2 linked regions of the Homo sapiens genome follow. The protein of the gene in region 2 purifies or fractionates together with the protein of the main gene of each other region. This does not show direct contact. Each region holds a gene or a part of one and is shown on either strand. Other genes may lie near its edges.

Region 1 (3,819 bases), on a different chromosome or scaffold from region 2:
ATGTAATTGTTGACCTGGAAATAAAGTAGCATACATATACATATACATTTACATATACATACACACACACACACACACACACACACACACACACACAATACATGGTTTAGGAACTTAACTTGATGTTTATTATTATTTTTCAAAGTCCAATAAAGGAGATACGTGGGAAAATGAGTTATTTTTCCACAGTCCCTAACCCTTCCCCGAAATAGCTCTGCTAGCCCCAGCCACACACACACCCTGGCCACCACACACACACACACACCCCACACACACATACATACATACACACACACACACACACACACACACCCCCCAGTGATCAGGCCAAGTCACTGGAGCCCAAGGCCGCTGAGAATACAATTGGTCACTCCATATGCCTGTCTGGACACGTCTGTCTCTAAGGACACGCTTCTGAGAGGCTACCAGATGTCTACTCCATTTCAATAGTATCAACAACTAATCTAGCAAAAAGTATCAGTAATTGTTTTATGTTAGGAATTTTCATAAAGTGAATAATTTAAAATTTGTTAATAGAGCTATTTAAAGGAGTTATATAAGAAACTCTTTCAAAAGAGCAAATACCTTATCTAATACAGTCTTAAAAAGATTTGATTTTAGGGGCCAGGTCTCATGTTGCCATGTATGGCAGAAAGTGTCTTGCACAGAATAATGTTAAATATCTGTTACTTGATAAAATCTACACTTGCACATTTTGCATTTGCTCTTAAAAATATTTAAGTGGCCGGGCGCAGTGACTCACGCCTGTAATCCCAACAGTTTGGGAGGCCAAGGTGGGCGGATCACAAGGTCGGAGATCGAGACCATCCTGGCTAACATGGTGAAACCCCGTCTCTATTAAAAATACAAAAAATTAGCCAGGTGTGGTGGTGAGCGCCTGTAGTCCCAGCTACTCGGGAGGCTGAGGCAGAATGGCGTCAACCCGGGAGGCGGAGCTTGCAGTGAGCAGAGATGGCGCCACTGCACTCCAGCCTGGGCAACAGAGCAAGCTGGGTGACACACAGTGAGACTCCGTCTCAAAAAAAAAAAAAAAAAAAAAAAAAAAAAAGGCAAGGCATGGGAATCAAAGCAATTGGTTTTCTGGCTATAATCTGAGGTTTAATAAGCTTTCAATTACTTGTTAAAGAGGTTTTTTTGTCCACATACCTTATCAGTGTCTATTCCAGACATAAACTCCTGTTCCACGGTTAATTTATCAAAAAAGTCTTCAGAAGCTAAAATGAAATTAGCAAATTTGCAACTTAGAAATTAAATGTTAATTTACTTGAGTGGCATGCTTTTATACACAGAGCACGATTCAGAAACTAGACATGTGGCTGGGCACGGTGGCTCACACCTGTAATCTCAGCACTGTAGGGGGCCGAGGTGGGTGGATCACTTCAGGCCAGGAGTTCAAGACCAGCCTGACCAACATGGCCAAACCCCATCTCTACCAAAAACACAAAAATTAGCTGGGTATGGTGGCACACACCCGTAGTCCCAGCTACTCGGGAGGCTAAGGCACAAGAATCACTTGAGGCGGGGAGGCGGAGGTTACAGTGAGCCAAGATCACACCATTGCTCTCCAGCCTGGGCAACAGAGCGAGACTCTGTCTCAAAAGAAAAGAAACCAGACATCATGCAAAAAAGCAAGCAAGCAATAAGTTCAAGTCATCACCTGAAGAAAATCTTTTAGGAAACATGGAAAACGCTAGGCCTCTGCACTCCTAAGTTACACTAGATACAGTCGACAAGTGCACTCTTTTGTATCCTTAGGATTTCAGTACAGACCCCAGAATGAGCGTCAGTATGAATGAAAGCTAATTTCTCAAGAACATTTCATTTTCATCATTAGGTTCAACCCAATTTCAACTGGTTTCCACTCCTATGAACAGGGAAACAAAGGACTGATTTTCCGATAACTGTGATTTACTTAAGATTCGAAGTATACTTCATAAAACAATCTCCTACTCAGCTTTTACAGCCCTGTGTTGTAACAAACAAACAAACTCATGTCTGCTTTAATAGATGTCTTCTGAGCTCTTTCAAAATACTCAACATATACTCTTTGTACCAATTCTGCACAGAATATTCAAGGGAAGAACATGCGCCAATAAGTAATCCTTCAAAAAAGGAAAAAAGCTGCTGGCCGCGGTGGCTCATGCCTGTAATCCCAGCACTTTGGGAGCCAAGGCAGGCGGATCACCTGAGGTTGGGAGTTTGAGACCAGCCTGACCAACATGGTGAAACACCATCTCTAGTAAAAATAGAAAATAAGCCAGGCGTGGTGGCAAGTACCTGTAATCCCAGCTACTTGGGAGGCTGAGGCAGGAGAATCACTTGAACCCGGGAGGCAGAGGTTGCGGTGAGCCAAGATTGTGCCATTGCACTGCAGCCTGGGCAACAAGAGTGAAACTCCGTCTCAAAAAAAAAAAAAAAAGAAAAAAAGCTAGACTAAAAAAATTAACCATCTCAGATTATGATGGCAAACTTATGGATAATTTTTTTCTCTTATCTACATTCCAAATATTTTTCATATAAATGATAATGAAAAAATTTGAGTTAAAAAATGGACCCTTCCTCTCTTTCTCTTTTTCTTTCTTTCGTTATTTCGAGATGGAGTCCTGCTCTGTCGCCCAGGCCGGAGTGCAGTGGTGCAATCTTGGCTCACTGCAACCTCTGCCTCCCGGTTCAAGCAATTCTCCTGCCTCAGTCTCCTGAGTAGCTGGGATTACAGGTGCCCGCCACCACACCTGGCTAATTTTTGTATTTTTAGTACAGATGGTGTTCCACTATGTTGGCCAGGCTGGTCTCGAATGCCTGACCTCAGGCGATCCACCTGCCTCGGCCTCCCAAAGTGGTGGGATTACAGACATGAGCCACCTCGCCCAGTCTTTTTTTTTTTTAATGGAGTCTCGCTCAACCAGGCTGGAGTGCAGTGGCGTGATTTCAGCTCACTGTAACCTTTGCCTCCAGGGTTCATGTGATTCTCATGCCTCAACCTCCTGAGTAGCTGTAACTACAGGCATGTGCCACCATGCCCAGCTAATTTTTGTATTTTTAGTAGAGACAGGGTTTCGCCATGTTGCCCAGGCTGGTCTTCAATTCCTGGACTCAAGTGATCTGCCTGCCTCAGCCTCCCGAAGTGCTGGGGTTACAGATGTGAGCCATCATGCCTGGCCAACAAATGGAACATTCTTTTTGTTTTGTTTTTCGAGATGGAGTCTCACTCTGTCACCCAGGCTGGAGTGCAGTGGCGTGATGTCGGCTCACTGCAACCTCCGCCTTCCAGGTTCAAGCAATTCTCCTGCCTCAGCCTCCCAGGTAGCTGGGACTACAGATGCATACCACTGTGCCTGGCTAATTTTTGTATTTGTAGTAGACATGGGGTTTCATCATGTTGGCCAGGCTGGTCTCAAACTCCTGACCTCAAGTGATCTGCCCGTCTTGGCCTCCCGAAGTGCTGGGATTACAGGCATGAGCCACCATGCCCCGCCTGGAATATCCTTAACTATTAACATATGTATACTTCATTAACACTGAGAAGAACACGTGGTATTAAGACAGAGCTGACTCTCCCGAAGAGGCATTGTGGTGTTGATGACCTAGGTGTCAAACGTTGTATGTGCAAGTAGCCCCAGACTGAAACAATCATTACAAAGGATACTCACTAGTGACATCTTTGATCAATTCTGCAATTGAGGTATGGTTTGCAAGCGAGCCCCTTGCTGCCTGCATGTGGGGCAACTGGGAAACAAACTGCTTGATCTCCCCCACGGTCTTAGCATTGTGTCTTTCCTGAAATAAACAAGAGAGCAG
Region 2 (3,819 bases):
TTTTTTTTTTTGAGATGGAGTTTCGCTCTTGTTGCCCAGGCTAGAGTGCAATGAGGCGATCTCAGCTCACCGCAACCTCTGCCTCCCAGGTTCAAGCTATTCTCCTGCCTCAGCCTCCTGAGTAGCTGGGATTACAGGCATGCGCCATTATGCCAGGCTAATTTTGTATTTTTAGTAGAGACAGGGTTTCTCCATGTTGGTCAGGCAGGTCTCAAACTCCCGACCTCAGGCGATCCGCCTGCCTCCGCCTCCCAAAGTGCTGGGATTAAAGGCGTGAGCCACTGTGCCCGGCCGCTCCTCTGATTGTTAAAATAGCATTTACAGTACATTTCTTGAAAGTCACCTACTTTAAGGCTTACATCAGATAGTCTCACATTTAGTGGAGTTGCTTTCATGGTTGTGGAAGATGGGGAGATTGAGAAAGGAGGAAGGAAAAATCAGAAACCACTTTACTGATCCCTGCTCTCCGTCTGAGACAGTATGTGGGATTAATGCTCCAAAAGACATAGATTTGCATAGAGTTTTAGAATATTTAAATCTGTCATCTGGGACATACCGTTTACCCTTAACTCAGTTCTTCCTTGTAGGATTTATTTTTCTCTGTGCTTTTGACATTTTTTGGTAATTCATACAAGCCCAAATTTTAATGAGCAAAGAATCCTAATATGTGTCCTCTTGCGGACATCCACATGCTTTATATATTTGGGTTCCTCGGGGAACTTGTTCCTCATGGTGGCAACAACAGCCATGTGGACCCCATCACCCTCCTCCTCACTACCATTACCTCTGATGTCAGAGAGGGCAAATTGGGGTGAATATTCCAAAACATAATTTGTATAAGAAGTGAATAAGCTCTGACTCTTGAGTTTATGAGCTGGGGGCCCCTCAGACAGTGTCATCAAAGGGTTAGAATGGCTTTCAGGAAGGGTGGTGACTTGGAGCCACCAGGCTAAGCTCTGGACCTCTGCTGCCCATAGAGCTTTCTGCAGTGATGAAGATGCTCCCATCTGCCCTGTCTGGTAGGCAGTCCCTGTCCATGTGTGGCTGCTGAGTACTTGCAATATAGCAAGTGCAGCTGAGAGATGAATTTTACATTTTGTTTAATTTTTATTTTATTTTATTTTATTTTTTGAGACAGAGTCTTGCTCTGTATCCCAGGCTAGAGTGCAGTGGTGCAGTCTCTGGTCACTGCAACCTCCACCTCCTGGGTTCAAACGATTCTCCTGCCTTAGCCTCCCGAATAGCTGGGATTACAGGTGTGCACCACCACACCAGGCTAATATTTTGTATTTTAGTAGAAAGGGGGTTTCACCATGCACCATGTTACCCAGGCTGGTCTCGAACTCCTGAGCTCAGGCAGTCCTCCCACCTTAGCCTCCCAAAGTGATGGGATTACAGGCATGAGCCACCGCGCCCAGCCTAAATTTTGTTCAATTTTGATCAATTTGAATTTCAATACTTACAAGTAGCTGGTGGCTGCCTATTGGACAGGGAGCTCTAGGCAAGATCTGCCATTAAGTTATGTAATCTTCAGCAAGTCGCTTCACAGCAGAGTCCTCCCCTCCAGTCTCCAGTGTACACTTCATTGCCTGCAGTCTGCCCCTAACACATGCCCTCAATAGAATGTGGGTGCTTCAAGGGCAGGAATTCCTGTGTCTTATGGACTGCCATGTCCCAGCAGCTAGCCCTGTGTCTGGCACACGGAGGATCCCCGATAAAGAGAGGATGGCGAATGGATCAAAGTGGGCTGTGGTCTTGTGTTGAGGGTACTGTAGCTGGAACTGCTCTGGCCTTGTGCCCTGTGGTGTCGTGTTGCAGAAAAGATGAGTCCACTGCAGTGGGAAGCTCACTGGCCCTTGGGCTTGGGGACAGGAGACAGGTACTCACATGCCTGTTCTCACTCTGCGGTCTACTGGCCTTGATGCTGTGTGGTAATGGACTTCTCTGTCTTGAGTTTGTTCTAATGGAAAATTACCTTTCCCTCTTCCAGGAAACTTAATTACAGGTACACATGTATTTTTCAAATGCCCTTTGAGTAATCTTAAAGTATATTCAAGGCAGAGTCTTAGTATGAAGTATAACTAAGCTGTTTTGTTATACACAGGCATCTCTCATTTGTAAATAATTTGTAAATTGAAGCGAGAAATGCTGTATTCTTAGTATTTTTTTACTTTTTTTTTTTTTTTTTTGAGACAGGTTTCACTCTGTCGTGCAGGCTGGAGTGCAGTGGCATGATCTCAGCTCACTGCAACCTCCACCTCCCAGGCTCAAATGATTCTCCCACCTCAGCCTCCCAAGTAGCTGGGACTATGGGCGTGCACCACCACACCCTGCTAAATTTTGAGACTCCGTCTCAAAAATAAATAAATAAATAAATATAAAAAGAAAGCTATGGCAAATTATTTTACTGATTTTAATATATGAGCTTCTTGAAGAACAAAAACTGTTTCTTAGAGTCTTTTGTATGATTCTTTTAGTTTTGGTGGATTTTTTTTTTTTTTTTTTTTGAGACGGAGTCTCACTGTGTTGCCCAGGCTGGAGTGCAGTGGCGCAATCTCGGCTCACTGCAAGCTTTGCCTCCCAGGTTCACACCATTCTCCTGCCTCAGCCTCCCAAGTAGCTGGGACCCCCGGCGCCCGCCACCATGCCCGGCTAATTTTTTGTATTTTTAGTAGAGACGGGGTTTCACTGTGTTAGCCAGGATGGTCTTGATCTCCTGACCTTGTGATCCGCCCGCCTTGGCCTCCCAAAGTGCTGGGATTACAGGCGTGAGTCACCGTGCCCATCCTAGTTTTGCTGGTTTCTATGAATTTAGAATCATTCAGTTCTTTAGCTGGCTGGTGCCTCTGTGACAACTGGTATTTAGGGCTAGCAAACGTGGATAAGTGCACATCAGCTCTCTCTTGGATCACCAGTGGTAAAACCAGACTCTTCTTTCTTAGTGAGAGATGGTCTGGAGATGTCTGGATGCTCAGAGCGTGTCCACGTGCAGCAAGCGGAGAAGCTGCCAGGGGCCACAGTTTCTGAGACGAGGCTCAGAGGCTCTTCCATGGCCAGCTCCGTGGCCAGCGAGCCAAGGAGCAGGAGCAGCTCGCTCAACTCCACCGACAGCGGCTCCGGGCTCCTGCCCCCTGGGCTCCAGGCCACCCCTGAGCTGGGCAAGGGCAGCCAGCCCCTGTCACAGAGATTCAACGCCATCAGCTCAGAGGACTTTGACCAGGAGCTTGTCGTGAAGCCTATCAAAGTGAAAAGGAAGAAGAAGAAGAAGAAGACAGGTACCCTCTGTAGCTGGCACACACCCATCTGGGGTTACAGTCTTTCCAGATTCTCTGGGAGTGCTGCTGCTCACTGAGTGAGCAATGCTCCATACATCCAAAAGCAGAGAACACATACATTTCTTCCCCAAAGGAGTTTTACTGCAAAATACTTCACATTAACGGAAAATACACACACACACACACACACACACTGTAAGGTCTAAATGATGACAGAACACCTGTGTGTACTCACCACCCTGCTTAAAGGGTCTCAGTTTTGTACTTTTCAATATTTATTTATGTATTTATATTATTTATTTATTTTTTGCGACAGAGTTTCGCTCGTCGCCCAGGCTGGAGTGCAATGGCACGATCTCGGCTCACTGCAACCTCACCTCCTGAGTTCAAGCAATTCTCCTGCCTCAGCCTCCCGAGTATGCATGCCCAGCGAATTTTGTATTTTTAGTAGATACAGGGTTTCTCCATGTTGGTCAGGCTGGTCTTGAACTCCCAAACTCAGGTGATCTGCCCGCCTCGGCCTCCCAAAGTGCTGGGATTACAG

Evidence for each region.
Region 1: the proteins of TECPR2 (region 2) and VPS33A purify together in Homo sapiens (affinity purification with mass spectrometry; one large-scale study listed by BioGRID and IntAct). This does not show direct contact.

Annotation. Positions count from the first base shown.
Region 1 is NC_000012.12:122,238,711-122,242,529, forward strand, and holds part of VPS33A (vacuolar protein sorting-associated protein 33A), read right to left. Parts: intron 3,799-3,819; coding exon 3,672-3,798; intron 1,236-3,671; coding exon 1,168-1,235; intron 15-1,167; coding exon 1-14.
Region 2 is NC_000014.9:102,428,854-102,432,672, forward strand, and holds part of TECPR2 (tectonin beta-propeller repeat-containing protein 2), read left to right. Parts: intron 1-2,942; coding exon 2,943-3,275; intron 3,276-3,819. UniProt on the Homo sapiens protein: Probably plays a role as positive regulator of autophagy.